Linked DNA regions of Homo sapiens: region 1 is linked to region 2. Evidence: fine-mapped expression QTL. A gene starts in region 2. The other region holds a variant in brackets. All regions are shown on one strand. Distances are between the middles of the regions.

Evidence for each region. PIP is the estimated chance that this variant, and not a neighbour inherited with it, causes the effect.
Region 1: its variant is fine-mapped to the expression of SORBS2 in aorta (GTEx, PIP 0.99).

The regions. Positions count from the first base shown.
Region 1 is chr4:185,696,785-185,705,128 of GRCh38, forward strand. The region is part of intron 3 of SORBS2 (sorbin and SH3 domain containing 2); the gene reads right to left. Among named protein-coding and RNA genes, the nearest start is that of SORBS2, 110 kb to the right of the region's middle. The variant C/T (reference allele first, on the strand shown) is at 4,186.
Region 2 is chr4:185,807,979-185,816,322 of GRCh38, forward strand. SORBS2 (sorbin and SH3 domain containing 2) reads right to left here and starts at 4,216. Exons shown (of 27, transcript NM_001395207.1): 1 at 3,686-4,216.

The DNA of each region.
Region 1 (8,344 bases), 110 kb before region 2:
GGGATCATTACGGAACAACATCTAAGTATTTTCAAGTGCATCTTTTTTCTAAGACTAAGTCATTTGTTCAACTTGATAGTACAGTATTAGGAGAATTCCATTGGCTTATAATGTGCAAATCAAAAGCCAAAAAAATTTCTAATGAAAATAATTCAGATTCTGACTGAGGATCTCATAAGTCAGGCACCTTATCAAAGAGACATGTGAGGAATTAATTAGAATATCCCTATAACACATGTATAGGCAAACTGAATAGCGTTGGAAGAATGGGTCAAGAAATAGGCAAAGCTTGACTCAAATCCCAGTTCTGCCCATTTCTATGCATCCGAACAATTTATACCAATGTCATTATCATCGACTCCCCCGCTAGACAGCAAAGCATCCCCAATCTGGCAAACTGGCATTATTCCCATTCACTAATATTTCAAATATTTTGAAGCAGATCTTTACCTTTGATTGAGTCTTAAGAAGATAATCTAGACTTTCCTGAAAATACATGGGGCATTATTGTATTGCTTTAGATTGAAGCAAGCCATATGGTTTATTAGACTGATTTCTATGGATTTTCCCGTCTCCCAATTGTCCCACACCCAGCTTAGCAACATGTTGGAATTGAAAAGGAATTCTACTTTCCAGGCAGCTTTCTTTCTTCCTTAAAAAGATCCTTTATTTAGCTAAGATTTTCCCCCCCACACATTGCCATGAACAAGAGAAAACCTAAGAAAATAGTTGAATCAAACCCTTGCCTTCTAGCCCAGCTATAGACAATGCTACTGGATCTAAGGGAAAGTGACACTATAAAGGTTTTGACGATTAGCTTTTTTAAAAAAATCATTCTCTTTCCCTTTGACAGCTGATAGCCGAAAGCGATGGCTGAATGGAAAGAGATGTCTATAAAATGTCACATAACAAATTGTGTGACAAATTGCAGAGTGATAACATCCTGATGGCAGCCTACTCCTGCTTAATTCAATAAGGGAAAGTGCCTCTGATTTCCCACCTTGTACTGAGAAGCACACATTTCTATTTTGAGGAGAAAAGCCTTGATCTTTTTAAAGAACCATTTTTTAAAATTTTATGCTTTGCTAAGTTTCTCACTGCTTTTAATTTTAAAATCTTCCGTTTTAATTTTTATATATTGAAATATAAAAATCATCTGATATCAAAAGAATTATGTAATCTAGTCTAGTTTTGCATGTCTCATACTTAGACTTTAAGTAGAAGCAAGCATCAAAGGCTCTGGTAGGGATTGAGATCAACCAACTCATTTTTAGGGTTAGACATTTGAGGATAAGATAAATGGATGCCCCAAGCAGATACTCAAAAGTAGTTCATCTCTCCTGACTCCTAGCAAATAATAGGCATCCTCCTTTAAGGAATCTTAAAACGTCATTTGAAATCAAGATCTTGGCCAGGCGCAGTGGCTCACGCCTGTAATCCCAGCACTTTGGGAGGCCGAGGCAGGAGGGTCACTTGAGGTCAGGAGTTCGAGACCAGCCTGGCCAACATGACGAAACCCCTGCCTCTACTAAAATTCAAAAATTAGCCGGGCATGGTGGCACATGCCTGTAGTCCCAGCTACGTGGGAGGCTGAGGCAGGAGAATGGCTTGAAGCTGGGAGGTGGAGGTTGCAGTGAGTCGAAGGTTGCAGTGAGCCGAGATCGCACCATTGCACTCCAGCCTGGGTGACAGAGCAAGACTCCATCTCAAAAAAATGAAACAAAACAAAACAAAACACAAAACAGAAAAACAACATAGGAAATCAAGCTCTTTCCCTTTAAAATATTACAGTACCCTGCTTAATTAAGTACTGAATCATATGAGGCAGGGGTTAGGGAAAAGAACAAAATATGAGAAGACGGTGTGGTAGAAGGCAAAACTGTTTGATAAATAAAATAAGAACTGTTAACATAGAACCATATGTTTCTTCCTCTAAGACTAATAGGAAAACAGTGGTTGATTATGACAAGGATTCCTTTTGCCCAATCACAGCACAAGTCCAAATGGAAAGTGTTAATCAGGTCTACTAAACCCAAAGCATATTAGACCTCCTTGGTCTAAGCCTAGACCAATAGCCATTGATTTTTTTTTTCTGAAATCCTTAGAATTTTCAGTTAGTAAGTATATCTATTTTAAATTATTTTCATGGTAATGTTACGTGGTGAAAGTATTACAGTGAAATAAGCCTGCTTATTGTTAATTCACTGTTCTTAAAAAGCCACACTTTTCTTCTGATTGAATACACCTGTTTCCTGAGCACCTGAAATAACATTTATATACTTTAGCAATGTCAAGGTTTGTCAGAATTTTTGACAGAATATACTGTCAGAATTATTACAAATTCATGTTTATATGTGTCTCAGATATGCAATGGTGAAATCCCACTTGCTATGTGGAATTTAAATTTTGGGGCAGGGGAAAATTTGCTCTAATTTGATCTTATAGTCTTAAAATTTAAGTAATACATTACTTACAAAGTTTATCCAGAATGAAATGTACCTTTTTTTTTTTTTTTTTTTTGAGACAGAGTCTCGCTCTGTTGGCCAGGGTGGAGTGCAGTGGTGCAATCTCGGCTCACCGCAGCCTCCACCTCCCAGGTTCGAGCAATTCTCCTGCCTCATCCTGCAGAGTAGCTGGGGTTACCGGTGTGTGCCATCATGCCAGGCTAATTGTAGTATTTTTAGTAGAAATGGGGTTTCACCATGTTGGCCACACTGGTCTCGAACTCTTGACCTCAGGTAATCTGCCCGCCTTGGTCTCCCAAAGTGCTGGGATTATGGGTGTGAGCCTCCATGCCTGGCCAGAATGTATCTTAAATTGTACATCTTAAGGCAGTTTGATTCATTTTAGAAAATTTGAACGAGAAAATAATAAGCCAATGGAGGAAAAATATCATCTGAAGAAATTTTGAATGCATTAAAAGTTGGAAACTTTTGATATTTGTGTTGAACAGTGGATAGTTTATTACATTATTCTTTGGGATCTAATAAAAGTAGACAATAAAGACAGATATCTTCCATTTTAATGGAAATGTATTATTCAGAAATGTATTATTAATATTTATATACTGCTGCTCCATTGTTATTCAGACATTTGAAAAAATTCTTTACATTTCTCTATGTACTAAATGTACAAGTGTTAAGCAGAATCATAGGTGAATAAAAGGTACTCAATTTGAGGAGTACCCTGTTCCGACTGTGTCTGCAACATTTTTATTTTAGGGAAAAACAAAGTGGTGTGTTTATTGATTCTGCAGAAGGCATACACACGAGAGGGGAATAGGTAATAAGTAGAAAGATGATCTTGACAGGCTGAATTAAATTTGGCTAAACTAAATTTCATGATTAGGTTGAAGAGACTGGCTTTTCAAAAATTTATATGGAATAAGTCTAAGGGCTTTAATGCAATTGTTGAAAAATATAATTAAATCAATGTCTAAATGAACAGTGGTTTCATGAATCAAGGAAGATTGGGCTCCAGCTGCCTCACTTTTAAAGTGTCCACATGAGTCTGTGCGTGAGTCAGGCTGGCATGAACTTGAGTCTCTAGGCAGGCTTTGGAGGCTGTGCTGGGTGGGGGGAGGGTCACAGAACGATATGGTAGAGACACTATGGTGAGTTTCCAGGTGACTACCAGCAGCAACAGGAAAAGTTACTGACATGTACTTGAGGTTTATTTTTTTCTTTCATCTCGTGGAACTCATCCCAGTGGCCCTTAGGGTTAATGCTCTTAAATATACCAAATTTATGCTTTAAATTGACAAGAAGATGTATAAATAACAGTTGCAGCTAGAAGCTTCAATATTCCCTCAAGATGTACCTGAATTTAAGAAACATAATATCTAAATAAGACTGTTTCTCAGTGCTGGGTTTTTAACCATCTGGTTCACAATTGTCATCAGAAAGAATGAAAACAAGTCCATCCTAGAAATAAGGGGTTTAAGACTTCAGAACTGTACAACAAAATGGGATGTGGTGTCTATTGCCCTTTTGTTCAGCAAAATGCCAACTCAGATGACCTCACTTCTAGTTCTTACCCCCCACATATGTTCCCAGCATTCTTCATTTTTCATACCTAATATAGTCCTTCATGCTCTGCCACTATTTAAAGCTAAAACTTTCACTCAATCCACCAAAAATAGGCAAGAAAAACAACATACAAATACAAATTTATATTCCACAGTTA[C/T]ACAGTGGAGAACAGTGAAGCTTATTTGAACAAAGTTTTTGTTGTTTCATAATACTCTAACTTATTTGACGTACTGGCTAAAGGTAGAAATGATCAGAACACTTTTTGAGATTGTTAGTTGGCATATTTTAACATATGTAGTGAAATCCTACTCAGTCTGATCTTTATTAGCCATTTCTCCCCCTTTTATCTACAGAAATAAACTCTCAACACTCTTTCTTTTATCTTGGACTTTTGCCACTCTTGGAAAAGCAGAAAAATTTCCTTTTGACTTCCCAACTACACGAACTCTTTCAGGGCAGCCTGGTTTTAGCTCCAGGGTAGTCTGCCATGATGCTCAGGGCCATGGATCACCTTACAGATCCAACCTGGGCCTCTTGTTCGCATCGACTCTACCCTGGGACTCAGCCTGTTCTCCTTCAGGTCCACAGGTAGAGAATGTCTGTGTGGACATCTTCATGGACAGAGATACCCACTGACTTCTGATCTGATACCTACTGACTTCATTTCCATTTCTTCTTTTATAATGGAGCGTAAAAGCACTTTGTCATCTGTGCTGCAGCATTTGGTAAAGGAAATCCAGAACCCACGCTGGGACCACATGCATTTACATTGATTCTAGTTAATTATGTTTGAGTGGAGTGATCGCTTTTCTATAGTACATAGAAAATGTTAACATGAACTATTATTATTGGGATGTTGGCTGTCTGCCATTCCTAACACAGAGCAGAGGGTAAGAAAATGTCACTCATATTGGGAGAGGGCAAACAATAATGGATGGGCCAAAAAGTTAGCAAATTTCTTTCTTTTTTTTTTTTTTAGACGGAGTCTTGCTCTGTTGCCAGGCTGGAGTGCAAGTGGCGTGATCTCAGCTCACTGCAACCTCTGTCTCCCAGGTTCAAGTGATTCCCCTGCCTCAGCCTCCTGAGTAGCTGGGACTACAGGCACGTGCCAGCACGCCCAGCTAATTTTTTGTATTTTAGTAGAGACGGGGTTTCACCATGTTGGCCAGGATGGTCTAGATCTCCTGACCTCCTGATCCACCCACCTCGGCCTCCCAAAGTGCTAGGATTACAGGTGTGAGCCACTGTGCTGGGCCGCAAATTTCTTTTTTGTGGGAGAAGCCACTTTAGAAGTATATATCTACATACCTTGTCTAAGTCAATGTGTTGCTATAAAGGAATACCTGAGGCTGGGTAATCTATACAGAAAAGAGGGTTATTTGGCTCTCGGTTCTGCAGCCTGCACGGGACGCATGGCACTGACATTTGCTTGGGTTTTAGAGAGGCCTCATGATGCTTCCACTCCTGGTGGAGGGGAGAAGGTTAAAGGGAGCCGGCGTGCAGAGATCCCATGGCGAGAGCAGAAGCAAGAGAGAGCAGGAAGGTGCCAGGCTCTTTTCAACAATCAGCTCTCAAGGGAGCTCCCCCAGGAATGAATAGAGCAAGAACTCACTCACTCTCCCTCTGCCAGGGAGGACACTAATCTATTCATGAAGTATCTGGTCCCAAGACTCAAACACCTCCCATTAAGCCCCATCTCCAATTGGGGATCGAATTTCAACATGAGATTTGGAGGAATCAAATATCCAGACCATAGCACACATCAATAGCGAGGAAGTGGCAGAGTCAGAGTTCAACAACCTATGTTTTAGGGGACTTCCAGGTATGTGCTCTTAATGTTACATGACTTTTTTTTTTTTTATTGTACTAAAGTGGGAGTCGGTGTTAAGCCTTGTGTGGGAAGGTATGCTTGGGCAAATCACTTCACTTCGATGAGCCTGAGTTTTAAAGTTTATAACATGAAAGACTTGATTTAAAATATAAAAGCACATAAGGGACTTTTATGGTTTGAAATTTTGCTAAATCTAGGAAAGGTATATTCAACCAACAAACATTTGTTGACCTTTAATGTGCAAACCACTATGCTACTGTCATGATTGTACATATCAAGCAGAAACTAACTGGAAGCCAATATTTAATGACTCATTCACATATTAAAATTCAGAAAAAGGAGATGGTTAAAGACCCGTGCTTCTGATAGCATCATGATGAGATGGGGTACATATTAACACATGTCCAAGCCACCATCCTGACAACCAAGCTGTCTCCCTCTTTGTTGTCTGCTTTACTTAACTCCAGATATAAGATCTAGAGAATTGTTTATATATTACATGTCTTTCTATATTATCTCCAGTGCCCTACCCTTGAGCTTCTCAATTTTAGAATTTGATCGTTCCTAAAATAGAATCCATTTTATAAATCTGCACCAGAAGAAACAGACAGAACTTCAGTCCATCAATTTTCATTAATTTTTAAAGCTTTTTTCATGAGTAGTGTGGTAGGTACATTGGAGGTAACAAGAATCATTGATTCTTTTTTTATTCTGTTAGAATTTACAGTAGAGGAGAACTTCAAAACAGGTATCTCAATCATGGAGGCAGCTTGGCATTCCAAATATTACGTTTTTGCATAGCTCCTATTTTAAAGAGTAAAAGTCTATTGGCTTTTGAAGGAAAAAAAACTAAAAGATCTAAGCAGACTGTACTCCTAGCCAATATTCTCATCACATTTTTCTTACTGGCTGAATCAGTCATGCCATAACTTGCTAAATGACAATAGCATGGGAAGTACAATGACAATTTGAGTTATTTTTCATGTGGATGGTTGTTGTTCTGTGCTTTGATTACTGTTGAGAAATGTCGGCATCAGGCTCACAAACAATTGCCAAGGTCCTATGACCCACAAAAACTTCAATCAGCCTGTTCCCATGTTCAGATGTTTTGGAATTTGGATGTTTACTTTACATAAATTATGATTTAATATTATGGCTATTTGTAAGGCTACTATGTGATAATTGTATCATTAACTTCAAATGATTAAGAAAAGCAATCTGAATTAGGGAGAAGTGAGTTATAAAGTGCTTGTGAAAAAAGGCAACGTATTTTCCTTCAAAAATACAGATTAACTCTAGGTCAAGGCAATAACACCTAAAATAAATCCTCCAGGGTCCTAGTTTAATGAATACATAAGAATGATTTGTACTTCTAACATCAATTCATATGGAATGAATGCTTCTAAAAAGGTTTATTTTGTGTAGTATAAGTATGCTAGCACTTTGCTTAAGAATCTAGCTTTTAATATTATCAAAAGTAAAGACAGCCTAGACTCTCACTGAATTACCTCAATTTCTAAATTGGTATGTCTAAGTTACGATTCAGACATAATTCATATTTATTTCCCATTTCATGTTGGAGTCAGGATATTCGCTTCTCCCCAAACCTCACCCCATTTTTCCAGTATTCCTCACCTCAGAGAATGCTATCATTCATTCATTATTTTTTACAATTTTATTTATTTATTTTTTTGAAACAGAGTCTCACTCTGTCGCCCAGGCTGGAGTGCAGTGGCGTGATCTCGGCTCACTGCAACCTCTGCCTCCCAGGTTCAAGCTCTTCTCCTGCCTCAGCCTCCTGAGCAGCTGGGATCGCAGGCATGCACCATCACACCTGGCTAATTTTTGCACTTTTAGTAGAGATGGGGTTTCACCATGTTGGCTAGGCTAGTCTCGAGTTCCTGACCTCAGGTGATCCACCCCCCTCGGCCTCCCAAAGTGCTGGGATTACAGGCGTGAGCCACCGCACCTGGCCCATTCATTCATTATTCAATTCATTAATCAAAAAGTTTGAGAGCCCATTCTACTCCACAAATTACCCTGGATGTTCCCTCTCCCTCAACTCTCCATGTTTTGAGAAATAAGACAAGAAACATTCAGCTCTGGGAAGGGCAGCATGCTTCTATCTCAGTCCCACAGTTCATTTGCCCAAGAGACTTGGGCATGAAAGATAAGCATTTCTAGTCCTTTTGATTTTGCACAGGTCAGATATAGGTTAGGCACAGGTTAACACAGAGTGGGCAGATGGGAGTCTCTGACCAGCTCATGCGGTGCAGGAGTTATACTGTTGCTTCACTTTCCCATAACAGCAATGGATCCGAAATGGATGATGATGTTCCAGTGTCACACAGGTAGGGGCAGCATGGCAGATAAACGTGAGAGAAAAAGCAGTGTGTGCATGCACATGTGCACATACACAAACACATGTGCCCATGCACAGGCACACGTACACATGCTGTTGTGTTCCCCACCCAGTTGTCTCAAA
Region 2 (8,344 bases):
ACAGTACAGGCATATTACAAAATCATGGTTTCTGAAATCTAATTACTATATGCAATTTAAAATAATTAAACATGATTAGTCTTTAAGATGAATAGAACCAATTCCAACTTTAGCTATTATTTAATTATAGCATGCTGTACATTAAAATCAGCTGGAAGATAGCCAAAATAAGCTTTAAAGGACAGCATGATAATTAAGAATTGCTATTTATCTTACTTTTATTAGAAAACTCAATGCTGGAATGAATGCAATAATGTCAAGAAATATGAATTTAAATAATTTCCTAAATATTTTACTTTCTAATCCCAAATATCAGGATATTTTAAACTTCCTCATCAATTCTACTTTATATACAAAAATTCATACAGTATTAATTAGAACTTTTGCTTTCAACACAGATATCTTAAAGACAAGGAATTATGTATTTATAACTTCTTAATAAAACTATGGGTACATTCTTATTTTTGATTGTGGCAGTTTTTTCATAAAAAGGCTACTGAAATCAGGCTTATTTAAAAAATACTAATAATGTTATCTAATATAGAACAGAGGGTAGGAAGTCTCTGTAAACAAACCTATATCTATATCAAGAGTGATTCTAAGAGAATATTCTCTCCCTTACCCAGGTACTCAAGTTGTAGGGTAACATAACTAGTGTAACGTAACTAGTGATTTCCAGTCACCTTTTAGGTTTACTTAGGAACATTAAAAGAAATGCTGCCATTGTAGACTTCATTTCAATTATTTAATCTCTTTCCAGTTCACGACCTTTACTTTCTTCTGGTTTCAGCAAGAAAAACAACTTCATAAGTGTCTTACATTATAATCGGCTACTAATCATCATCAACTCAACATTAGTTTTAAACAGTCTGATTCCATAACAAATTTGTAATAGGGATATTTTCTATACATTTTATAATAGCCATGGATAGAAAAATAGTATTATTTATATACTAAAACATTCAAGTTGTTTTGTTTAAAACATACATTGTAAAATTTTCCCTCGGGAAATTTGGATTTATTATAGGACAGTTGTAGCTTTTATGAAATTGGGATCCTGAAGCCATATTTTCAAATCAGAAAAATGAAAGCCTCATTGTTGTTTTTCAAATGTTTTAAGTTTCCTTGATAAAAGGCAGTATTAGGACTTCTATTTCTAGGTCAAGTCTATATTTACAGTAACTAATAGGAAAATATTGAAGTCTGAGGTTACCAGTACAATGTCTGAATGCAAAATTCTGGACACTGGACAAAGTACTTTAGAATCAGAGGCCAGCAAAGCTCTGGAAGGCTGTGAACAGGGACAAATGCAATATGGTTCAGCAGACAGAAAGTCAGAAGTAAGATTCAGATGTAGCCAAGCAGGGTGGGGGACAGTGAGGGGGGATGTCTAGCTGGACTTGAAGGGCGTATGAAAGCAGCTGTCCTTGCAGGGGAGATTTAAAGGAAATGACTCTTCAGGGGGCACTGCATTTGCAAAAAAAAAAAAAAAAAAAAAAAAAAATCTGATATAGTATGTTTTGGAAATTCCAAAATATTTGATATTGCCAGCAGAAGAGTTGGAAAGTGGCAGAAAATAAGGGTCTAAAAATAGCCATAAGCGAAAGTGCAAAGTCTTGAAGGATAGAGATTATGTCTCTGAACCTGGTTCTCAAAATTGTTGAATTATTAACTATGGAGATGCGCTGTACAGAATTGAACTTAAAATGGTCATCTGTGTATAGCATGTCATCTTAAAAGGTTACTAAAATAGGAAAGAACTTGCACAGGTATAAAGTGTGTGCCATTCCTCCCGTGGGCTAAGGGTCTTGTCTCACTTGGTGCCACTATCAATGCAACAGGCACAGCAGTCGGGTGTGCCCTGGATATTTCTACACCTCATTCTTCTAAAAGCTCCCCCAAGAAAAATTAATAGGAAATCAGGTGCTTGCTGCAGGTCTTTGCACTGTGTCAATTCTAAGAAATCCTTTGGCAGTGTAAAGCTTTGAAGGAAATTAAATTGGAGAGAGATTTTCTCTACCTTTCATTCAGCTCATATAGAATCCCTTACTTAGCTGATATTTTTGCTCATAGAATTGGACTCAGAACTAAGTCTGTTCATTTAGCTTTCCTTTGAATGTTAAACATAATGAAGTACAAGGCCGTCACCTCACCATTTTATCCCCTACAACCCGCATAGGCGTACACTTATCACCAAACGTTTGCACATGTTTGGCTCCACTGAGATTCTTAGTCTCTATCTTTATATTTTGACTATTTTGACATTTAGAACAAAAGTTTGGAAAACTATTCTCCTACTGCTTTAGCATTCTCTTATCTTAGGGCTTATGAACATTGCTACATCTCTGAAACAGGCGGTTCCTGCCCATATCTATCAGTGAAAATTATACTTAAAATTCTGAAGAGACTCATGTCATCCAGATTTTGGAGGAAAAAGGTAGCAAATAAAAATATACTTCTTAGAAGTAGATCTCAGTTACTACTTATTTTAAATTTCACAGTAGATTCCATCTTTTGTAGATAGGGGTTTTGTTCAAAGTTTTTGACCAAACATTTTTATTAAATATTTTCAATAGTATTATAAGTGATCTGACATTTTTGGTAACAAAACAACCAAAGAACTGACTTGAGTAAAGCTGAAATGTTGCTGAACCAGAATCTAATCCTTACTCCGTCATTTTCTTACCAGGGATTTTGATTTGACTGACCAGTTTCAATCCACAGTAACAGCTTTGTTCCTAAGAGACTATAAATCAAGGAAATACTCACTACCAGGCAATTCCTCCTGCAATTCGGGGTCTGTGCTGTTATTATGAAGCAACTGACAGCAAACATTTGCTGCAAGTATGAGCGCAGATTTGGATGAGGTGTGCGGTGTTTTTGGTTTCACTCTTTATCTCTGAAACCTATCTGCTTGTGAGAAAAATTGTGCAAGAAAAGAAGTTTTACTGCCACATACCTCAGCTGTCCTAGAACTCAATGCAGAGGCTTCGCTTCCTTTCTTTCCTTGGATTCTGAGCCGGGGGAGCACAATGGGGGTCTTGTGCTCTGGGCCAGCAAGGCATGCAGATACTCGGAAAGGAGGTGTGAACGGCTTCCAATACCTACACTGTTTGCTTTACAACTACCCCAACTAAATCAAACAGGACACCAAGACACTCAGTCCAGGGTAAGCAAGTACAAAATCCACTGGCTATTATGACCCACATAGAGAACAGAATTCTTCAATTTAAGTGTGTACATAGCTGTGTTAAGAGTTAAATAAATCATTTACGAGGCTTAAAAAGAAATGCTTCTCATGTAGTTCTTTTTCATGTAGTTCTCTGAATACAAGTCAAAGTGCAGGTCACGAAAGAATCCATTGTTCACAAGCGAGAAATGTTGTTGGCTGTGAGGACGGTTCAGAACAAGCCATCGTAGTCTGCTCAAACAGTAAATATTGGTTTTAAAACCCCAAAGCATATCGGTCATGTTTTTTATCTTCCAATTGCTAGAACCAAAATTCACTGAAACAACTCTATGTCTCTGATACTATTTTCTAGAAATGTGTGTGTATGCGTGTGTGTATGTGTCTGTGTATGTTTGTTTGGTAAATCCAAATCACACAATCAACGTAAATCTTTCAGGCTAAGTTTTGCCCCAGTTATTTTTATGCTGTGCTTTCAAAAAGGTCAAAAAAGCTTACCTCTGTCAGTGTACTGGGACGCTCAGGAAGCCCCTTCTCCGCCTCGGCCTCAGCGTGCAGACATATGCCCTGGGAGCCCACAATCTGTTAACAGGAAGCAGGTAAACCCGAGAGCGTCCGCCTGCGTTCCAGTCCAGTGCCCGTCCCAGCACACACCTGCTTTTTCAGACCTGCCGCTCATATGCCACAGCCACGCACAGGACCAGCGTTAGCAGAGTGCAACACCCTCCGTTTGGATCCCTCGTTTTCAGGGTAAGCAGCTAGGGAGCTGCTGAGATAATATTGCAGGGAAAGCTTGCCTTCCCAAGACAAAAACCTTTGCTGCTGCCTGATAGCAGATATGCAGCATTATCACTCTGCATTCCACATTCTCCAATCAGCTAATTGGAACGGCAGTCAACAGCCTGTCCAAAAGGCAGCTTGCAGGCCTGCGTGGCTGTGATCATTGTATACTAACATGCCCATTGCTTCTCTCTTCCCTGAAGAGATGTATAAAAGAGGCTTCTTCCAGGGCGAAGCTCAGCAGAATATGCCACACTGTTTTCCATAAGTAAAATGGCTGGTCCTCTCAGCTCTGCTGCAGACAGCTCATTGGGTTCCACTGGCTTTTCGTAGCCATAGCAACAACCAACAGACAGACTTAGCAAGCATGGCTGATCATGTGCAGCACACTCACACAGCTTGTTAATTTCTTTTCATCAAACTCATCATTTTTTTGAGGAGGGTAGCTTCTGTTATCTTTCTACACATTTCACCGATAGTGCAAGTGCTCCGATTTTTCTGCTCTCCTGAAGAACTCTTTTTTATATGAGCCGGGGCTATGTATGAAATCGAGGAAGTGAAGCCCTATTAGTGGCTATCCAGGTTAATAACATGCAAATCACTTAAGAGACCCTAACTGGAAGCATTGTCAAAACAAGCCCCACCTTCCAGTCATAGAATGAGTGCAGAGAGCTGCAAACGGGAGAGTTACACTTTTTGTTTTTAAATGATAATCTTAGAGCCACTTAATTGAAACAAAACCCTGTGAATTGCTATATAGGGTCAGAATAATAACTAAATCAGGTAGACTATTTTAATAAGATCTTTAAATATCCATTTACTTATGGCTCAACTTATCTGATTACTTTAAGATGCTTTTTATGCAATTTAAAATAGAATTTTTAAAAAATCCTATTGCTTCTACGGCAGAAAATGATTCTTTAACTCAATCTTATTTGTAAATTAAAAATTCTTTTTAAAAAATCCGCACCTAATTAAAAATTCTTTGACTTTAAACATTACCTTCAAGGCAAGAATAGTTTTACTTCCTCAGTAAAATGGATCACATTCCACCCGTCCATAACATTTCACCTCCTCTGGGAATCTACCATGATTAATGCCATGAACAACGTAAATCTTCTGCAGAACCCCCAGGCTTTTCTTCTTTTTCAGGACTCTATCACCAGTCATATTCTATCTGATATATTTCCAAGGCACTGTCCCATTTATTTTTGTTTCTAGCAATCTGTTTCAAATAGTTATGTTAACACTTTGGACTTGTAAATATAGATGTTCTATTTGCTAAGTAGTCATTGATTTAGGATTCCGTCAGTATTGCGTTTCCCTACCCATGTTAACACTCCTGCCTTCAGTATTAATTCCCAAATTTTGACTGCATAGGAATCCTGTGGATGTAGATTTGGGGATGCCCGCTCCCCTTCCTCCCCAACCGGATTCACATTAGGTAGGTCTGAGCCACCCAGGGTCAGCGTATCCATGGAGGACAAGTGGGTGGCGCTTTCCTGCTTGGGAGAGTCCTCACCGCTTCAGATCGCCTCCAGCCAGCCTACCTTTTCTCACTGAAGTTCCCTTCCCTGAAGTTATTTTGCATTTGCTGTTGCTGAGCGTGCCCCTGCCTTCGCCCTCAGCCTCCCATTCTACTATTCACTGCCCACGTTTCAGAATCCTGCATTACACACCATTTCCTTGCCCTGCAGATGCTGCTACTATTAAAAACCTTCTCAATCTGACTGCTCCTCGCCCCAGCACCTTTAACCTCCATCCCAATCTGCCTCCTCTTTTATCTTCCAACACCTGGCCCAAATGGACCACCTCACTCATGACTCTCCCAGGTGGGGTCTGAGCGACCTCTTCTGCGACTCCCCTGTACCGGGGTCCACCTCTGCTATTACAGGCCTTGTCACGCCCTGGGACTTCTTAGCAGTTCTCCTTTTATGTCTGACTCCCAGACTGTTCTATCAACTCTCTGGAAGCCAATCTGGTCCATGTCTTCTTTGCCCTCCATGCTTGGAATATTCTAATTTCTCAATGCCTCTAAATGAGGACCTACGACACTGTATGAATAGGGACTGATGACTGGCTGGTGTGAAATCTGTGTTTTAATTTACTTTTCAACATCACACATTTGTTGACTCATCACTTCAGAAGAACTTCAGTGATTTTGACAAAATGCTGGCATGTTACAAAAGGATATCAAGAAAACTCTAGGTGCACTTGATGTTTTAGGGTGGCTTTTCTTTTCATTGTATCTCTGAAAATGTCTTTATACCCTCACACTTGATTGATTGGTTGGCAAGGCATAAGAATCTCTGGCCGTGGCTCACACCTTTATTCCCAGCACTTTGGGAGGCTGAGGCAGGTGGATCACTTGAGCCCAGGATTTGAGACCAGTCTAGGCAACAGACTGCATCTCTACAAAAAAAAAAAAAATCAAACAAACAAACAATTAGCCAGGCATGGTGGTGCACGCCTGTGGTCCCAGCTACTCGGGAGGCTGAGGAAGGAGGAATGTTTGAGCCTGGGAGGTCGAGGCTGCAGTGAGCTGTGATCACATGACTGCATTCCAGCTTGGCAACAGAGGGAGACTCTGTCTCTGTTTTTAGTAGCAAAACAAACAAACAAACAAACAAACAAATATCTGAAGTCATTTTCCTTTGGAATTTCAAAGGCCTTCATCCTTCTTCTTGTATCTCCTCCTCCCCTATACCTCCAATTCCTGCTCCTCCAAAGAGAACTGGAAGTCCCCCAGTTTGCACTGAACCGGAACTGGGAAGCTGGCAGGAACTGAGATGAATCCCTTTCCCCTCTTTGCCCCGTGGCACGTCTCCCGGCATCTCTACTGGCCTTCACACATCACTCTGCTGCCAGTCTGTTCTTCCAAGGCTCTTGGCTCCTTCGCCTGCTCGAAGCCCCTCCCTTGTAACTTGGTGCACTGAGGCCCATTGGCATTGCTCTGACCTCAGGCCCTGCCCTAGCCCAGGTCCCTGACGTTTATTCTCCTTCCAAACGTGTTTGTTTTAAAATGTGCTAGATACAGATTTCCAAGAGACAAATCTGATTTTTCCAGCCCATCTTTCTGAGTCAAGTGAGATACCACCTATGTGGCCAGCAGCTTTATACATGGGCTGCCCTGTGCCTTGGTCCAATCAGCTATGACAAGGACACTTGGCATTATCTAGTTTTAAAATTTTGCTAATATAATAGGTGCAGAGTAATGGCCCATTATTGTTTGAATGTGTGTTTCTCTAATTACTGACAAATTGAACATCTTTTCATTGTTGATGGTTTTCAGGGTTCCCTCTTCTGTAAATTTTCTGTTCATAGCTTTTGCCTGTTTTCTCTATTGAGATTGTTGTCTTAGTGTGGAATTTTAAACAACGTGGTCATAAAGGTATTTTTTATATATATTTAAACATTATAATTAAATTTGTTATATTATTAAAGGTTATTAAGATATCCACTAACATATAAAGGGAACCCTATAATTCACACTGCTAGTTGTTTTGGTTTTTATTATGAAATGAAAATACAGAATGTGTGTGAAAATCTCCATTCAGAAATTATGTTCAGTATGAAAGCGTAGAATACCACACCATAATATGATTTTCTAAGACAAATATTTGTTTAGAAGGATTTTCAAACAAATATATTATCATCAAAGAATACATATACACACACATATATATGCTCTAATAGTATACGCACACACATATATATGGAGAGAGAGAGAGAGCTATCTATCTATCTAGCTTCTATTTTAAGTTATACCGTATGCACACCTACACATCAATCAATCTACCTATCTATCATCTGTGTATCATCTATGGAAGGCAAACACAAATGTGCAAAATGCTAACACCTGATGAATCTTAAATGAGAATATTTTCAGTTTATTTTACTATTCTTTGCACTTTTCTATAAGTTTGATTTGTTTTCAAGATACAAAGTTTTAAAAAATGAAATAAAATGAGAATAAAAATAGTGTTTAGAATAGACACAGAGTTAAGGTTAAGATTAGTTGATGAAGACATAACTATTTATCAGAGTTGAAACTAAAGAAGTTAATAAGTTATGGAGTAACTAAAGTGATTACTACCATTACTGTTACTCTGAGGAGGCTACTCTGGTAGAGAGTATTGGAAACATTTTGCACTTTCTTGAAACAAGTTTGCTATTTCCCTACATTTACTGCTTCCCTGTATTCTGATCTTAAACCATTTATCCTCTGGTTCGTATTTTGAAATCCTTATTAGTCTGTTTCCTTAATTCAACAAAATCATCACTGCTTGAAGCAATAGGTTCTTCTCTAGTCACATCTTCTGCTGCAGACTCCACAGCTGGGACCCACCAAAGGATCTGGTCCCTGGCACAACAAAG